Linked DNA regions of Homo sapiens. The protein of the gene in region 1 interacts with the protein of each later gene in a pairwise test. Each region holds a gene or a part of one and is shown on either strand. Other genes may lie near its edges.

What was found. Proteins that work in one complex are often made in the same cells at the same time.
Region 2: the proteins of MAL (region 1) and CLEC4C interact in binary tests that used the Homo sapiens proteins (3 or more experiments, as listed by UniProt).
Region 3: the proteins of MAL (region 1) and CALN1 interact in binary tests that used the Homo sapiens proteins (3 or more experiments, as listed by UniProt).
Region 4: the proteins of MAL (region 1) and KCNA10 interact in binary tests that used the Homo sapiens proteins (3 or more experiments, as listed by UniProt).

What each region holds. Positions count from the first base shown.
Region 1 is NC_000002.12:95,028,188-95,032,811, reverse strand, and holds part of MAL (myelin and lymphocyte protein), read right to left. Parts: intron 1-4,624. UniProt on the Homo sapiens protein: May be involved in vesicular trafficking from the Golgi apparatus to the cell membrane. Plays a role in the maintenance of the myelin sheath, and in axon-glia and glia-glia interactions.
Region 2 is NC_000012.12:7,733,170-7,737,793, reverse strand, and holds part of CLEC4C (C-type lectin domain family 4 member C), read left to right. Parts: intron 1-219; coding exon 220-365; intron 366-4,624. UniProt on the Homo sapiens protein: Lectin-type cell surface receptor which may play a role in antigen capturing by dendritic cells. Specifically recognizes non-sialylated galactose-terminated biantennary glycans containing the trisaccharide epitope Gal(beta1-3/4)GlcNAc(beta1-2)Man.
Region 3 is NC_000007.14:71,810,133-71,814,756, reverse strand, and holds part of CALN1 (calcium-binding protein 8), read left to right. Parts: intron 1-4,264; coding exon 4,265-4,421; intron 4,422-4,624. UniProt on the Homo sapiens protein: Negatively regulates Golgi-to-plasma membrane trafficking by interacting with PI4KB and inhibiting its activity. May play a role in the physiology of neurons and is potentially important in memory and learning.
Region 4 is NC_000001.11:110,516,011-110,521,071, reverse strand, and holds KCNA10 (potassium voltage-gated channel subfamily A member 10), read left to right. Parts: upstream 1-1,896; 5' UTR 1,897-2,284; coding exon 2,285-3,820; 3' UTR 3,821-3,855; downstream 3,856-5,061. UniProt on the Homo sapiens protein: Voltage-gated potassium ion channel that mediates K(+) permeability of excitable membranes.

The sequences.
Region 1 (4,624 bases):
TGGCACGTTCATGACCCCAAGAAGGGAAATGGCTACACTGCTCATGCCCAGCTAGGAGCTCACTGGGTATCAAACCTTTCACCAGGGTGTCAAAGGCAATTTGGAGCCTTCCAAATTGATGAGAGACCACGAGGGACCTGCTCCATGCTCCATGCCCTTGGGAACAATCTGAAAGCTGTGAGAAGGAGCTGGCCACACACCCCAGAACGTTCCTGCTTCAAGGACAAGGGGCACAGTCCCCCACTGTCCTCACACCCATCAACACCAGGAGGGTACACCCTCTGGGGTGTCCTATCAGCACCTGTCCCTGAGGCCTGCTGGTCCAAAGCACCATGTCCGGCACTGACACTGGAGGGGCCAGGAGGAAGCCCTGGAGTGGCTTAAGTCAGCCCCCAGCCCCTTCTAGTTCAAGTCTGGCTGGCTCTGTCCTGTGTCAAGGCAGGTCCCAGGTGGTCCAGTCCCTACTCCCAGCCCCTTCTCTGGAGAATGTGTCTGGGCCCAGGACAAAGCCAAGCCACTGCTAAGGCTGTGCAGAGCTAGTCTGTGCTGGCAGCACAATATGCTCTGCCCCTCGCCTGCTGGTGTGGCGAGTATAGGTGCAAAATTCAGCCCTTGTCCCTGGCCGACCTGAGTGTGAGCGCTGCTGGCAGCAGCATCGTGGGGCTTCCTACTCACTTCTGAAAGCACTGGGACAGAAAGGGTGCCTTTGCACCAGTTCTGGCATTGCCCCATCCCTGTGAGGTGGGGGAGTGACTTATGAAAAGCTAAAAGGCAATCTTTTAAAATATAGCTCAGGTGTGATGACACATGTCTGACAATCCTGTGGAGATGAGCCCCATCATCACACTTAGCAGTTTCCAGGGAGCAGCTCAAAGTTACTGAGTCCTCACCAAAGCCAGCCTCTGGTCTTGAAAAACCAGAAAAGTCACTTCTCCACCAAACCCCTGTGAAATCTCTGTCTAGAACACTTCTCCTCCCTTTAGAGAGGAAGAGAGGAGAAAACACGGAAGATCAGGCAGTAGCCCTCTCTAAATAGCTACAGAGAAGGGACAGAGCCAGGAGCCAGTGGACACAGTCAGAGAAGGCCAACTCAGCCACCATCCCATTCTGGCCAAGCGGGGCCTGCCCCACTCCCTGGTGCCTGTAGGAGAGGCTCCTAGCTAGCACAGCAGGGAACTTTCTCCAGAACAGAGGAGGTCCCTGGTCTGACTTGTGAGAACCTCAGAGCACCTGGCTGCTTGCCCCAGCCTCTCCCTGAGAACTGTTCCCACTATTCTATCCCCCATAAAAATATCAAGAGGGTGGCCTGGCCTCGAGATGTCCGCTCCAAGTCTCAGCCAGTCAGTGGAGGGTGTGCAGTGCAATGCGGGTTCTTCAACCTGCCCTGGACCTCGTGACTCAGAACCTGCAGGGTGTGTTTTTGACAAGGAGACCCAGAGGAGGTGTGAGCTTCCCAGTGGTCCTGAGCTGTCCCTTCATTCCTGTTGGGGGAGAGAAGGGACCAAGCCTTGCCCAGAGCTGCCAGGTGGGCAGGGCTGCCTACTCAGGATCCCAGTGTGCCTTCTAGTGCAAGCAAAATCTCGTGTGGCTGATTAGGTGAAAGGAGAAGCCTGGGCATGATCTGCTCACTGCCAGAAGTGCTCACTGGACCCTGGAGACCCGGTGACCCAGGCAAGTTGCTCCCTGTCTGAGCCTCAGTTCCCTGCCAGCTCTGAAAGTGAGGTTTCTGTCATTCTACGTCTCTGGTCTCCTAGGAGTTCCCATGCCACCTTCTCAGTGCAGCCACAGCTTGGACCACCTAATGCGAAACTGCCTCGCTGGCCCATGGCCCAGTCCCGGCTCTGTCGGGCTGGCTATTCCCCAGCCAGGTAGAAATCTAGCAGAAGTCCCCAGACCTCTCTGGTCACTCTTAATAACAGTCCAGTCACTTTGGGTCACAGAAAAGGTGTCATTTTAGTCATTACTCTGTCCAGTTCACTGTAACTGTCAAAACTGCAAACTGATTGCGGGTGTCTCCCCACCCCAACCCCAACCCGTGATGTGACTGCACTTCTGTTCGTGTTTCTGAGGCACAGAGGAGGAAGGGCATGCCCCTGGAGGGCTGGGCGGCATTCCTCACACCCTCACTCACAACCCTGCCTCCTTTGTGGCCTGGGGAGGAGGGGGCTGAGTAGATGATCTCACAACCCTCTTCAGGCACTTCCTTCACAAGTCCTGAATGGGTAGGGGGTCTCTCCTGGCACTCTGTGGGAGACCTCGCATCTGGGGGCCCCAGCTGAGACAGAAAGCCTTCCCTGTGAACCTTTCATTCCCTGAATGGTGGCCCAGTGTCAAGGAAGTCCCTGGCTTAGAATGGAGACGGAGACAGAGACAGAGAGTGGCTCCAAAAGGAAAAGTTCCTCACTGGGTGGGACTTTTGCAGGGGAGCAGACGAGAAGCAAAGCCCTGGGTTTTGTTGGAGGAGGGGAGAGCATTGGCTATTTCACCCTTGGCCTATATGGGGCTGCACTGATGACCACACCACCTGCAATAGGGGCACAGCCTCTGTGGCTCTGGAGGTATTTGGAAAGGCAGTCTCACTTCCTAGTTGGGCCTGCCTTCCTCTTCCTGTGAGGACTCTGCAGCTTTCAGAGGTCAGGAGGTCTGGGATAGGGGTGCTGGGCCAAGGAGAGGTTGCTATGCCCCACCCTGAGCTGCCACCCTCACTTGCTCCAGTGGGCAGTCCCCTCACCATGGAAGTGGCGCTCCACCCGGATCAGCTTGGACATCTGCGCCTCCCAGGCTGTTGGGAGGTCAGGCATGGGAATCTGAACTATGAGTCATCAACAACTCAGTGGACTACAGATTTAAAAAATAATCAAGCATTTCACACCCATTGGACTAGCAGAAAATTATAAAGTCTGACGCTACCAAGTGATGAGGAACAATGGCGACTTTCATGTGCTGCTGGTAGGGGCCGGGGAAGGTCCAGGTTTAGCCTGAAGCTTAAACAATCAGGAGGACCATCTTTATAAGAGAATACAAAATTAGGCAGAGTCTTGGAAGGGGCTTGAGTAAGTAGGGGTCTTGAACTTAATTAAACATCAGCTTCCCAGTAAATCTGCTCCTGGGGTGTGTAAATTGGAATTACTCTTTTGGACGGCAATGTGATAACACCTGGGAAAATGACAATGTGCATATCCCCTGTGACCCAACAAGTCACATCCTCCAAGTGTCTCTGGGAGACATTTCCAACAGGTAACTACAGAGGCAAATATGAGAATGTTCTTAGCAATGCTGTCTGCAATAGCTAAAGGCAGCAAATTGGAACTATCCAAAGTGTCTATTAACAGAAGACTGGGTAAACAAAGTCAACATGTATAAATCTCAGAACATAATGTTGCCTGGAAAGCATGTTGCAGAAGGATACGTACTGTATGCTGGCATTTTCATAAAGTGCGAAAACATGTAAAACAATGCCATGTGTAGTTCATATGTGTGCAGTAAAAGTCTAACCTGTGCTTGGAAGTGAACACCACATTCAGCCTACAGGTGGCCCTGAGGACGGAGGGAGAGAGAGAATAAGATAACAGAAGGATGTCTAGGAGGCTTAGATGCCATCTGAAAGCTTCATTTCCTTAATACATAACAGCAAACAAGGCAAAATATTAAGATTTGACAAAGTTGGGCAATAATTATGTAGGTGTCTGTTAAAGTATTGTATATGTTCTTCTGTGGCATTTGAAATATTTCTATTTTTTGTTTTTTAAACTTGAGGTGAAATTCACATATCATCAAACCAATCATTTTAAGTTGACAGTTCAGTGGCATTTAGTACATTCATGGTGTTGTGCACCCACCAACTCAATCTAATTCCAAAGCATTTTCATTACCCCCAAAAAGAAACCACATAGCGATTAAACAATTGCTCCCCTTGGTCCCTGGCAAACCACCAGGGTTTGTGTTCTGTCTCTATGGATTTATCTATTCCAGTATTTTATATAAACGGAATCATACACTATATGACATTTTGTGCCTTGTGTCTTTTGCTTAGCATAGAGTTTTCAAGGTTTATCAACTTTGTAGCACGTATCAGTACTTCATTCCTTTCTATGGTCAGGTAGTATCCATTGTTTGGATATGTCGCACTTTGTTATTCAGTTCATTGCTGATGGCCACTGGGCTGTGTGTTATTGTGAAGACTGCTGCTATGAACATGCATGTGCCAATACTAAAGTCCCTGCTTGGAATCCTTTGGTTATATACCCAGGAGTGGAATTGCTGGGTCAGAGGGTAATTTTTTGAGGGAACACCAAACTGTTTTCCACAGTGGCTGAACCATTTCACATTCCCGCCAGTGGCATACCAAGGGTTCCAATTTCTCCACATCCAATACTTGATGTTTTCCGTTTTTTGGATAGTAGCCATCCTAATGGGTGTGAAGTGGTATCTCATTGTGATTTCTTTCTTTCTATTTATTTAATTTATTTACTTATTAATTTATTTTTTTGAGACCGAGTCTCACTCTGTTGCCCAGGCTGGAGTGCAGCGGCATGATCTCGGCTTACTGCAACCTCTGCCTCCCAGGTTCAAGCGATGCTCATGCCTTAGCCTGCTGAGTAGCTGGGACTACAGGCATGAGCCA
Region 2 (4,624 bases), on another chromosome or scaffold:
ATATTTACTATCTGGCCTTTTGCAGGAAGTTTGCTGGTCCCTGTATAGAGTGAAATGATCTAGGGATTAGTAAATACACCAGTAAATGAGTTCAGCTTTGGAAAATCCGTGGAGATCCATAGGTGAAAACTAATTAAACCTTAGCAAGCTAAGCTTATAACTTTATGTGAGGAGAATTCTCTGTTAATATTTTTTCTTCTTCTATACTCATTTGGGAAGATTGGAGCTGCTGCCCAACCCCTTGGACTTCATTTCAGTCTAGTTGCTACTTTATTTCTACTGGGATGCAATCTTGGACTAAGAGTCAAAAGAACTGTTCTGTGATGGGGGCTGATCTGGTGGTGATCAACACCAGGGAAGAACAGGTATGTTCTAACAGGCAAGGTGGTCAGCTAATCTGTTTCCTTTCTTAACTGATAAAGAGTCTTTTTATTGCCCTGAAAGTTCAAAGACAGGAAAAAAAAAAAAACTTCTGGGTAAAAAAAAACCCAAAAAACAAAAAACACAGGAAAATCTCCTTAATCTGGAACACTCAAAAATGACTTTTATTTTTATTTTTTTTGGGGGGACTGTCTCCTTTTGTCACCCAAGCTGGAGTGTAATGGCACGATCTCAGCTCCCTGCAGCCTCCGCCTCCCGGGGTCAAGTGATTCTCCTGCCTCAGCCTCCCAAGTAGCTGGGAGGATAGGCATGTACCGCCACGCCTGGCTAATTTTTGTATTTTTAGAAGAGACGAGGTTTCACCATGTTAGTCAGGCTGATCTTGAACTACTGACCTCAAATGATCCACCTGCCTCGGCCTCTCAAAGTGTTGGGATTATAGGCGTGAGCCACCATGTGTGGCCAACAATAACTTTATTTTTTATTTTTATTTATTTATTTATTTATTTTGAGACGGAGTCTTGCTCTGTTGCCCAGGCTGGAGTGCAGTGGCACAATCTCAGCTCACTGCAAGCTCAGCCTCCCGGGTTCACACCATTCTCCTGCCTCCCAAGTAGCTGGGACTACAGGCACCTGCCACCACGCCCGGCTAATTTTTTTGTATTTTTAGTAGAGATGGGGTTTCACTGTGTTAGCCAGGATGGTCTGGATCTCCTGACCTCGTGATCTGCCCGTCTCGGCCTCCCAAAGTGCTGGGATTACAGGTGTGAGCCACCACGTCTGGCTAACAATAACTTTAATAAAACAAATTCCGGAGCAAACTTCAGGCAAACATTGATGTTGAAATTTGATCCTGAAGAATTTTAATTTTAAAAATATAAGAAAAAAAATTCAGGCAAATAAAATAGTGAATTTGAAAAATGGAAAAATGATATTAATATTTGCCATCTAAGAAATGTCAACCAATTAAACATTAGTCCTTCATACTGTATCCTCTGCATTTCTTACCTTCTTTTCAACATTTTCCATCTATTTTTCTCTTTGTACTTGATTTTAAACAGTTTCTTCTGTCCTTCTATTCCAGTTCACTAATCTTCTTTTTGTTTTTGAGACAGAGTCTCACTCTGTTGCCCAGGCTGGAGTGCAATGGCGCCCAGGCTGGAGTGCAATGGCACGGTCTTGGCTCACTGCAACCTCCGCCTCCCAGGTTCAAGCGATTCTCCTGCCTCAGCTTCCCGAGTAACTGGGACTCCAGGTGCGTGCCACCACACCCAGCTAATTTTTGTATTTTTAGTAGAGACGGGGGTTTCACCATGTTGGCCAGGCTGGTCTTGAACTCCTGACCTCGTGATCCACCCACCTCGGCCTCCCAAAGTTCTGGGATTACAGGCGTGAGCCACCACACCTGGCCCTCCCACTTGACTAATCTTCTTCAACTATGTCTATCCTGCTATTAAAGCCATATATTAACATCTAAATTCAATTATTGTATTTTTCAAATCTAGAATTGATCTTGCTTCTCTTTCAAATATGCTGTCAAACTTTATAATGTTCAACACTTAAGCTTGTTTTTTTGCTGTTACTGGTTTTTGCTTTTTTTTTCTTTTTTTTGAGATGGAGTCTTGCTCTGTCGCCAGGCTGGAGTGCAGTGGCTCGATCTCAGCTCACTGCAACCTCCACCTCCTGCGTTCAAGCGATTCTCCTCTCTGTCTCCCGAGTAGCTGGGATTACAGGCGACCACCACCACACCTGGCTAATTTTTGTATTTTTAGTAGAGACGGGGTTTCACCATATTGGCCAGGCTAGTCTCAAACTCCTGACCTCGTGATCTGCCTGCCTCGGTCTCCCAAAGTGCTGGGATTACAGGCGTGAGCCACCGTGCCTGGCCGTTTTTTTTTTTTTTTTTCTTTGAGACAGAGTCTTGTTCTATCGCCCAGGCTGGAGTGCAGTGGCAAGATCTCTGCTTACTGCAACCTCTGCTTCCTGGGTTCAAGCGATTCTCCTGTCTCAGCCTCCTGAATAGCTGGGATTACAGGCGCCTGCAACCACGCCCAGCTAATTTTTGTATTTTTAGTAAAGATGAGGTTTTACCATGTTGGCCAGGCTAGTCTCGAACTCCTGACCTCAGGTGATCTACCTGCCCCAGCCTCCCAAATTGCTGGGATTACAGGTGTGGGCCACTGTGCCCAGATCTTCTTTTTTTATTTTTTTGAGACAGAGTCTCTCTCTGTCACCCCAGGCTGGAGTGCAGTGGTGTGATCTCGGCTCACTGCAACCTCTGACTTCTGTGTTCAAGTGATTCTTCTGACTCAGCCTCCTGACCAGCTGGGATTACAGGTGCATGCCACCGCTCCTGGCTAATTTTTGTATTTTTAGTAGAGACAGGGTTACACCATGTTGTCCAGGCTAGTCTCAAACTCCTGGCCTCAAGTGATCAGCCTGCCTCGGTCTCCCAAAGTGCTGGGGTTATAGGCCTGAGACACCATGCCTGGCCTATGGAATGTTTCAAATTATCCTTGTGTGATGGATGTTGTACTTGAAAAATTATTTATAAAAATAATTGGAGGCCAGGCACGGTGGCTCATGCTTGTAATCCTAGCACTTTGGGAGGCTGAGGCGGGTGGATCACCTCAGGTCAGGAGTTTGAGACCAGCCTGGCCAACATGGCGAAACCCTTCTCTACTAAAAATACAAAAATTAGCTCGGCATGGTGGCACATGCCTGTAATCACAGTTACTCGGGAGGCTGAGGCAGGAGAATCACTTGAACCCAGGGGGCAGAGGTTGCAGTGAGCCAAGATCATGCCACTTCGTTCCAGTCTGGGTGAAAAAGCAAAACTGTCTCAAAAAAAAAAAAAAAATTGGAGGCCTCAGATATTATTCTCTTCCAAAGAGTATTTTCATTTGCTTTTGCCACATGCCTTGGCACAAGTCCTACAGTACATTATGGCAATTTCAGGGCTTGAAATTTCTACAATATCCAAATGATTCAAAGCCAGATCATAATCTATATGAGGTCTGATTTACTGCCTATTTACCCTTACCTCTTTCTTGGCTCTGGACTCTAATTTTTGCCTAACCGTACAAAGTTTTCAAAAGTGCTGTTCATCCTGTCTCCCCAGCCATGTTGTAAACTTTTATTTGTTTTGACTTCTTATGCCACATTTAGCACAGGGTCTGGGCAGACAATAGACTGCTTGAATGTTCAATGAATGAATGAATAGATAAATTGATATGGCGGAGAGGGAGGGAAGCACACAAACCACTAACAATGTCTCGTATATGTTCATGTACATTCAAAATAATCTGAAAACCTATGTCAAAATATCTTTTCTTGTTTGTACAACATTATTTGAGGCCTGGCGACGTGTTTCATGCCTGTAGTCCCGGATACTTGGGTGGCTGAGGCAGAAGAATTGCTTGAATCTGGGAGGTAGAGGTTGCAGTGAGCCGAGATCATACCACTGCACTCCAGCCTGGGTGAGAGAGCAAGACTCCATCTCAAAAAGAAACAAGTAAAACAAAACAAAATATATGACGGCTGGGTGTGGTGGCTCACGCCTGTAATCTCAGCATGTTGGGAGGCGAAGGTGGGCAGATCACTTGAGGCCAGGAGTTCAAGACCAGCTTGGGGGCCAGGTGCGGTGGCTCACGCCTGTAATCCCAGCACTTTGGGAGGCTGAGGCAGCTGGATCACAAGGTCAGGAGATTGAGACCATCCTGGCTAATATGGTGAAACCCCGTCTCTACTAAAAATACAAAAAATTAGCAGGGCATGGTGGCGGGAGCCTGTAGTTCCAGCTACTCGGGAGGCTGAGGCAGGAGAATGGCGTGAACCCAGGAGGCGGAGCTTGCAGTGAGCCAAGATCTCGCCACTGCACTCTAGCCTGGGCGACAGAGCAAGACTCAGTCTCAAAAAAAAAAAAAAAAAAGACCAGCTTGGTCAACATGGTGAAACTCCATCTCTACTAAAAATACAAAAATTAGCCAGGTGTGGTGGCATACACCTGTAGTCCCAGTTACTCAGGAGGCTGAGGCATGAGAATTGCTTGAACCCAGAAAGCAAAGGTTGCCCTGAGCCGAGATCACACCATTGCACTCCAGCCTTGGCAACAGACCAAGACTCCACCTCCAAAAAAAAAAAAAAATTTGGCTTTCTAAAATTTGATTATAGACCTCTATCTTTCTTGTAACACAGAACATGTACTGGTTAAGAATACTGGCTCTAGAGTTAGATCTCTGTT
Region 3 (4,624 bases), on another chromosome or scaffold:
TGCTATTATGAAAATCATAAAGAGGAGGAAGTAAGTTCATTAACTGGAAATGGATCATCATAAAGGTCTTCATCCTCATGGTGTTCACCTTGAGTAGGTGGAGGAGGAGGAAGAGGAGGTGTTGGTCTTGCTGTCTCAGGAATGGCAGAGGGAGAAGGAAATCCACATATAAGTGGACCCACACAGTTCAAACCCATGTTTTTCAAGGCTCAATTATAGCTGGAAATAATAGACCCTGTTACAGTCCACACTCTTGCTCATCAATATTCATTTCCCTCTCTTCAGCTGCAAAATATACTCCTCCCCTCCCCAGGGGAGACTTCCCAACAGTCCCATCCAGTTATAACACCAGACTCAAGCTCTAGAATCTCATGATGCTCATCAAATCTGGATGTGGCTCTTCTTGGTATGGAAACATAAAAACTAAAAAGTCAAATTACCCCTCACCCTTGCCCGACACAAACACACACTTGACATATGGTGGTGGACCAGGGTCAGGCCAACCACCAAAAACATTCCCCTCTGGAAAGCAAAACATGGGATACCCATAGCGGTCAGAGGCTCAGAGCAGTTCTGAAACCCTGTTGGACAAAAACCTTGGGGTGAGGAATTTTCCCTCAATTAGCTGCTTCTGCTTCCTAGAAGTGACCCTGGATGACATTGTTCTCCAAGATTCCCAGGAAAGCTGTCCTTTTCCACTATTCTTGTACTTACTCTATGAGGGCATTGTGTAATACACCCTTCCTGGGACCCGTGTAGCTTATCCTCTTAATTGCTTGGGCCCGTAGGTTGGGAAGTCCAAAGATCTTTTTTTTTTTTTTTTTTTGCAACAGAGTCTCGCTCTGTCACCCAGGCTGGAGTGCAGTGACACAATGTCGGCTCACTGCAAGCTCCGCCTCCCGTGTTCACACCATTCTCCTGCCTCAGCCTCCTGAGTAGCTGGGACTACAGGCGCCCGCCACCATGCCCGGCTAATTTTTTTGTATTTTTTAGTAGAGACGGGGTTTCACCATGTTAGCCAGGATGGTCTCAATCTCCTGACCTTGTGATCCGCCAGCCTCGGCCTCCCAAAGTGCTAGGATGACAGGCGTGAGCCACCGCGCCCGGCCCCAAAGATCTTTTAAAGTTTGGAACAGTTATAGTGTCTTTTAATCCAAGATTGTTGGCTCTTGGCCAGTATAGCTCTCAAGGACTTAGTTATGTTTTTATCTGGCTCCAATCAGTTATGCTAGTAAACACATCCACAATTATTTTTGAGACATACCTCTCTCTAAACTTAATAACAGGCTTCCTAGGAGAGTCACTTAACACATTCAGAGATTTTTTTAAAGAGGCATTGATTTGTTTCAATAGGGCTGTATTATTACTTAAAGCATTTCTTTATTTTATCTCTTACTAGTTGGAGATGAGAAACAATTGCTCTTGGTGCAGTGCCTGTAATCTCAGCACTTTGGGAGGCTGAAGCCAGAGTATTGCTTGAGGCCAGGAGTTCGAAACCAGCCTGGCCAACATGGTGAAACCCTGTCTCCACTAAAAATACAAAAATTAGCCAGGTGTGGTGCACATGCCTATAATCCCAGCTTCTTGGGAGTCTGAGGCAGGCAACATAGCCAGACCCTGTCTCTACTAAAAATACAAAAATTAGCTAGGTGTGGTGGTGTGTGCCTGTAATCCCAGCTTCTTGGGAGGGTGAGACAGAAGGATCACTTGAACTCGGGAGGTGGAGGTTGCAGTGAGCCAAGATTGCGCCACTGTACTCCAGCCTGGGTGACAGAGCAAGACTCCATCTCAAATAATAATAATAATAATAATAATAATAATAATAATGATGATGATGATAAATAAAATAGCTGGACATGGTGGTGCATGTCTGTCATCCTAACTACTTAGGAGGATGAGGCAGGAGGATCACTTGAGCCCAGATGTTTGAAGTTGCAGTGAGCTGTGATCACACCACAGCATATCAGCCTGGACCACCGAGCAAGACCTTGTCTCTAAAAAAATAGAACTAGAAATAGAAATGGGGGCTTTGAGAAATGTGTGGATAGGAAGATAACAAGATCATTACGAGAAAAAAAAGAAACAATTGCTTCTTTCAATGCTGCAACGCCAGGAATTTCTGAGTGGTTTTTATTTTTGGCTTGCAAATCAACCAGTTCTTTCCTGAGCTCATCTCTTTCTTGTAGTGCTCTGTTAGATGCAGCTAATTTCAATTGTGAATCACGGCATTCTGTTTCACAGACTTTTTACCTAAAACCACTGGACTCGGATTCAATATCTGCCTGTCCTCCAAGGTATCACAGGCAACAGTTTTACCAAATGTTTTGCTATCGTATTACAGGGATCTGTGTCTTTCCAGCCTCCAGTCACAGTTTTCTCATTTTTCACTGCCTGGCTCCGGAACCAGTACATTGTCTTTTAGAATTTTGGTTATGGTAGCCTCTTAGTTTTATGTACCAATTTCTCTATTTTTGACATAGACCAACAATGGTCTAAGTTATGCTGCCGTAGCAAACAAGCCCCAAATCTCAATGGTTCATAACAACACAGGGTATTCCTGACGTGAGCTGTCCATTGTGATTCAGCTGTAGGTGTTCCCCACTTTATCCTCATTCTGAGACCCAGCCCGAAGGAACAGCCTCTATCTGGGGCATGTAATTCTCATAGCAGAGGGAAAGAACAAATGTTAGAACCACACAATGATTCATAAAGCTGTGAATTAGATGTGGTAGATGTGACTTCTACTCACATTTTATTGGCCAAGAAAGTGACACTACTGGCCAGGCGCAGTGGCTCACACCTGTAATCCCAGCACTTTGGGAGGCCGAGGCGGGTGGATCACCTGAGGTCAGGAGTTCGAGACCAGCTTGACCAACATGGCGAAACCCCGTCTCTACTAAAAATACAAAAATTAGCTGGGCGTGGTGGTGCACACCTGTAATCCCAGCTACTCGGGAGGCTGAGGAAGGAGAATTGCTTGAACCCGGGAGGTGGAGTTTGCAGTCAGCCGAGATCGCGCCACTGCACTCCAGCCTGCGAGATGGAAGCAAGACTCCATTTCGGAAAAAAAAAAAAAAAAAGAAAAAAGAAAGCGACACTATCAAACCTAATATAAATGGAGTGGAAAAGTACAGTCCTCTCTCGGGGAGGGGCAGGATGTAATCAGGAACTCTGCACCTCTCCTTCAGCAGCTTTTCTTCATGAACATGACTTTGAACTTGTGTTTTTATCTTGTTAGAACAAGATTCATGGCCAGGCACAGTGGCTTACACCTGTAATCCCAGCACTTTCAGGAGGCCAAGGCAGGAGTACTTGAGGCCAGGAGTTTGAGACCAGCCTGGGAAACATAGCAAGACCTTGTCCCTACAAAAAATTGTAAATGTTAGACAGGCGCAGTGGCTCATGTCTGTAATCCCAGCTACTTGGGAGGCTGAGGCAGGAGGATGGCTTCAGCCCAGGAGTTCAAGGCTGCAGGGAGCTATGATCACACCACTGGACTCCAGCCTGGATGATAGGGCAAGACCCTGTCTCTAAATTTTTTTTTAAACGATACATAATTAGGCCGGGCGTGGTGGCTCAGGCCTGTAATCCTAGCACTTTGGGAGGCCGAGGCGGGCGGATCACTTGAGGTCAGGAGTTCAAAACCAGCATGGCCAACACGGTGAAACCCCGTCTCTACTAAGCATACAAAAAAATTAGCCGGGCGTGGTGGCGGGCACCTGTAATTCCAGCTACTACGGAGGCTGAGGCAGGAGAATCGCTTGAACTCGGGAGGCGAGGTTGCAGTGAGCCGAGATCTCGCCGCTGCACTCCAGCCTGGGCGAAAGAGCAAGATTCTATCTCAAAAAAAAAAAAAAAAAGATACATGCTTAAACCAATATGGGAATTGCCAGAGTGTTGGTAAATTATAAAAATTTTAGAGACGTATGCATTATATAAAGGGTTTCACCATTCTAAAGTACACAAAGTATGCAGGGTTGACAGCAGATGGCTGGATGAATAGGAAACCAGACTGGCGGGTGGCATTTTTTTTCTCCAAGAAGCTAAAGCGAAGGGAATATGTTCCACTCTCTATCATTCCAATAAGTCCCTGCAAGTTCATGAGTATACTTGGAGCTGAACAGGATGGAAAACTGTTCACCTGATATCCTGAAACGCTGAGACAAGTTTCTGCAGAGCAGCTGTGGGTCTGGCCTGTCATGGCCCGAGCCAACTTCCCATCTCCACATGCTTCTGACCATCTCACTACTCTTTATCTCCACAGTTTGACATGCAAAGGATAACTCTGGAAGAGTTGAAGCACATTCTCTATCATGCCTTCCGAGACCACCTAACGATGAAGGACATTGAGAACATCATTATCAATGAGGAAGAGAGCCTGAATGAGACCTCGGGGAACTGCCAAACAGAGTTTGAAGGAGGTAGGTGCCCCTGCTGCCATCCCCTCCCCGGTCCGGGACAGGCCAATGCACCACACTCTCTATATGAAAAATGCGTTCACACACAGGCTCTTGGGCTGATGTTCCCTTGTACTGAAGCCAAAAATCCAGGACTGAGGTTAAAGATCTTTTTTGCTAAGATGCGGTGGGTTTCATTTTCTCCATCTTTCTCCTCCAAATTCTGC
Region 4 (5,061 bases), on another chromosome or scaffold:
CTCACCATCAGACCCTCATCAAACACCCTCCTACCTGTCACTTGACCTGGGGGTGGAAGTGACAAAGAGGAACCTAGGAGGCAGGGAGAAGGGAAATGGCCTGGCTCCCAAAAAAGGAAGTTAATTATTTGGCCAAAGAAGCTCTCCCTAATCCCCAAATGCTTTCTGCTGCTGGCCTCCAGAGAAGTTCCTGATAAGGGTCACTCTAGCCTTGGCTAGAACCATGGAAGTGGTTCCCAAACCTTGCCCAAAGCTCACTGATGGTACTCATTCCTCTCAGAAAGCGGGACTGATTCACACCTGGAAGATAATCATCAGGGAGCACCATCTGCGGTCCAAGACCCCAAAGGAGAAAATGGTGCTCCGAAGACATGAGATCAACACAGAGCTGGAGTCCCCCACCCACAGCCATCCAGCTGCCAAGCAGTTCAGGACAAGGCCCCCAAATCATCATGCGAATTACTGTGAAGCTACATTTCTCCAGGGCTTTACCATGTACAGAGCCAGGATTTGAACTCGGGTGGACTGATTCTATTCTCAGATTCCATCCTGCCTCCCAGCCATCCTACTGCTCACCGAGCCTTGCAGAGCAGGCTGGCACCTGGCATGCTTGGCAGTGGGTACATCCTTCCTCATTCCACAACTGAGGAAGCAGCAGCTCCGTGAAATTAGGCCGTTTGCAATGGCCACATACTCCTGAGAGGTAGAATGGGTACTCTACCAGTGCTGACCAACCAGACTTGAGCTCATCATTCAACACATGGCACCTGAACTGAGAAAAGGGGTCATGGGATGGAAAGAGCTCTGGACCCCTGACAATTCTGTGGCCCTAGCCTACAGCTCCCCACAAGGCTCAGCTCCTATATAGGGACTCCATGGTCTAGTGGGAAAGGCCCTGGGCCAGAAGGCCATGGCCAGGTTTAGGTCAGGACTCTGTAGCACTAGTTATGTGACCTTAGGAAGTCACTTTGTCCCTGTGACTTGGTTTCCGCATCTGCAAAACAGAGATAACATCTAACCTCACGTGATTATTGTCATCTAGTGAGATAAGTGAATGTGGAATCACTTTGAAAAGACTACAACACTACACTGCAGGATAGCCTTGTCGCCTGTAAAGGAAACCTCTCCAAGGCTGTGACCACTACAGATTTTGCCTGAGGTTAAGTCCCTTACTTCTCTCCCACTCCCACCCCCAGCCTGCCTGGGTTCAGTGTTCTTAAATTGAAACTGAAGCTAGAATGAACCTGAGGAAAGAAATATTAGTCTATGTGTATAGATGTCCAAGCCCACTGGGCATGATTTCCTAACCCCACCTCCAGCGTGCGCGCGCACACACACACACACACACACACATATACACACACACACACAGACACACACAATTATTTACTTCCTTCCCACCTAAAATGATTTCTCAAAATGAAATTACTTCCTATGGACACCTTGGACTCAGGCCAAAAAAAATTCCAATTGCTGGTAGTTTCTAAAGTGCTTGTTATGTGGGAAAGTTGACAAAAAACAATAGCTATAATATAGTGATCTTTCTTTCCACCAAGCATTCCATACGTGTTATCTCATTTGAGGTACCTTCAAAACAACTCTAGGAGTTATTTCCAGGTGAGGGGTCATTTAGAGGACATTGTCGATTGGCCAACCCAGCGTCTTGTTTTTCCTTCCCTAAAGAATCCCCATTGGGTTCATAGATCTGGTTCCACCCTTCACCACTTGGTCCAGAAGCAGGGGTGGAAGTGATGCAAAATGGTTGAATTCTAGATATATTTTGAAGACATGACCAAAAGGATGTGTGAGGGACTGGCTGTTGGTGTGAAAGAGAGGCATTACGAATGAGATTGGGCATGGAGACGTGTTTGGTGAGACAGAAGGCTTCATGCAAATACAAGATCATGCTTTTTATTATTAAGGAATGTTAACTTCCTCTTTTAGTATGGCCCCTCTGCCATCACATATGGAGACCATCCTTTGCTGGGGAGAATCTCCCCTTCTTTGCCAGGATCCTTTTTTTGCAATTTCTCCTAGTTATTAGTTTATGCAAACTCAGGGGTACAAAATGATTTTAAGGGAAGCATGCTGCCAAAATAACCATGACGTTCCTTCCCAAGCTACAAATAAGTCATTGATTAGCCCATTGGTGTACCTTACCTCAATAAACAAGGGCCAGTTGTATTCTGCCCTGGATCTTGTATAATGAACTTCTTCTTCTCCATAGCTCACAGCAGGCAGTGAAGGCTGAGGATCTTCATGCTTCTTCCCTGGCTCCCCTAGAATGGATGTGTGTGGCTGGAAAGAAATGGAGGTTGCGCTGGTCAATTTTGATAATTCAGATGAAATCCAAGAAGAGCCAGGCTATGCCACAGACTTCGACTCAACCAGCCCAAAAGGCCGGCCTGGGGGCAGCTCCTTCTCCAACGGGAAGATCCTCATCAGCGAAAGCACCAACCATGAGACGGCCTTCTCCAAGCTTCCGGGAGACTATGCTGACCCCCCAGGGCCTGAGCCAGTGGTCCTAAATGAAGGAAACCAGCGGGTGATCATCAACATTGCTGGGCTGAGATTTGAGACCCAGCTCAGAACCCTTAGTCAGTTCCCAGAGACTCTCCTGGGAGACCGGGAAAAAAGGATGCAGTTCTTTGACTCCATGAGAAATGAGTATTTCTTTGATCGGAACCGGCCCAGTTTTGATGGAATCCTATATTATTACCAATCTGGTGGGAAAATTCGGCGCCCAGCCAATGTTCCCATTGATATCTTTGCTGATGAAATCTCCTTCTATGAGCTGGGTAGTGAGGCCATGGACCAGTTCCGGGAGGATGAAGGCTTCATCAAAGACCCTGAAACACTGCTACCCACCAATGACATCCACCGTCAGTTCTGGCTCCTCTTTGAGTACCCTGAAAGTTCCAGCGCTGCCCGTGCTGTGGCCGTGGTCTCGGTGTTGGTTGTGGTCATCTCCATCACCATCTTCTGCCTGGAGACACTGCCAGAGTTCCGGGAGGATAGGGAGCTAAAGGTGGTCAGAGACCCCAATCTCAACATGAGCAAGACAGTCCTCTCCCAGACCATGTTCACCGACCCTTTCTTCATGGTGGAGTCTACCTGCATCGTGTGGTTCACCTTCGAGCTGGTGCTCCGGTTCGTGGTCTGCCCCAGCAAGACTGACTTCTTCAGGAACATCATGAACATCATTGACATCATCTCCATTATCCCCTACTTTGCAACTCTCATCACAGAGCTAGTCCAGGAGACAGAGCCGAGTGCCCAACAGAACATGTCCCTGGCCATCCTGAGGATCATCCGCCTGGTGAGGGTCTTCCGCATCTTCAAGCTCTCGCGCCACTCCAAGGGGCTGCAGATCCTCGGGCAAACACTGAAGGCGTCCATGCGGGAGTTGGGGTTGCTCATCTTCTTTCTCTTCATTGGAGTCATCCTCTTCTCCAGTGCAGTCTACTTTGCTGAGGTGGATGAGCCAGAGTCCCATTTCTCTAGCATTCCTGATGGCTTCTGGTGGGCAGTGGTCACCATGACAACTGTAGGCTATGGGGACATGTGCCCGACCACCCCAGGGGGGAAGATTGTGGGCACTCTGTGTGCCATTGCAGGGGTCCTCACCATTGCCCTCCCTGTGCCTGTCATTGTCTCCAACTTCAATTACTTCTACCACCGGGAGACTGAGAATGAAGAAAAGCAGAACATCCCAGGAGAAATTGAAAGAATCCTCAACAGTGTAGGCTCAAGAATGGGCAGCACAGACTCTCTTAATAAGACCAATGGTGGCTGTTCCACAGAGAAGTCTAGGAAATGATCAGTCCAGGGCTTCTTGGGTCCATCCTGTCTCTCTTCTCTCTTCTCTCTCTCTCTCTCTCGCTTTCTCCCCTCCTCTCTCTCTTCCTTCTGCCTTCCCTTCCTCCCTTCATTCCTTCCTCTTTCCCTCTCCCTTCTCTCATTTCATCTTTCCAAAGATCAAAATGTATCTTTTGTGATCAATAACTATCTTTGACTACAAGCTATTTTAATAAGCCCATACTTCTACTGTATTTTCTAAACTGTTTCTTTTCAATACATTATAGAAAGATTTGGATCTCTTTTCCTATGAAGGGATAGTTCAGGTCCCCAGACCAGAAATACTGGTATCACCCGGGAGGATGAAAATGCAGAATCTAGGCCTACTCTGACCTACTGAATCAGAATCTGCAGTTTAACAAGATCCCAAGTGATTCGTTTGCATATTAAAGATTTAAAAGCACTGGTTTTGGTCTTCCTACGAGGAAGCATATGAAAAGACCAAGGGTTGCTGTGAGCAAAGAGGAAGAGCTCAGAGTTATTCAATTACAATAATAATAATACCTTGTACTTGTGTAGCACTGCATAAATTTTCCAAAAACACTTTCACCTACATTATCTCACTGCATCTTAGAATAATCAGATTTGATTATTATTTGATTTGATTATTATTCCCACATTACAGGTGAACAAACCAGGGGAGAGCAACTTACCTAAGGTCACCCAGAAACAGTGATATAGTCAATGCTGTCAAATCTCCTACCTACTAGCCCAGTGCCCTTTCCACTAATGAAGAAGATGTGTCAGAATTGGGGGAAAGGTGAGAGGAGTTTGAGGGGACTTTCAGAGGGTCCAGGCAGCAAACCTCTGGGCAGAGACACCCTTCCCCGGATGCTTCAGGATCTCCTCACAGCCTGGGAAGGCAGCATCTCCCTGACCCCTTGCTCCTCAGCCCCTTTTCTGGATAGTGGACAAGCAGAAACATCCCTCGATGTTTTCACCTGGCTCATCTCCATGGAGTTACACAAAGACTGGGGATCCTGAGTGTGGGAACTGTGGGCCCTAGAGAACTGCTCCAGGAAAGTGCACTTGTCCACCTGCCTCGAGGTTCAGCTCCCATTGAGTCATCAGGAATTGGCCAATAGCCTGTGGAGCTGCTGGGAAGGGAAGAGCAGGCTTCCACGTCATGTGCCCAGGCCCCAGGCTTACTCAAGGAGGATGGTTGTAGCAGGCCGGCCTAAGGACTGCCCTCCTAGGAAAGGA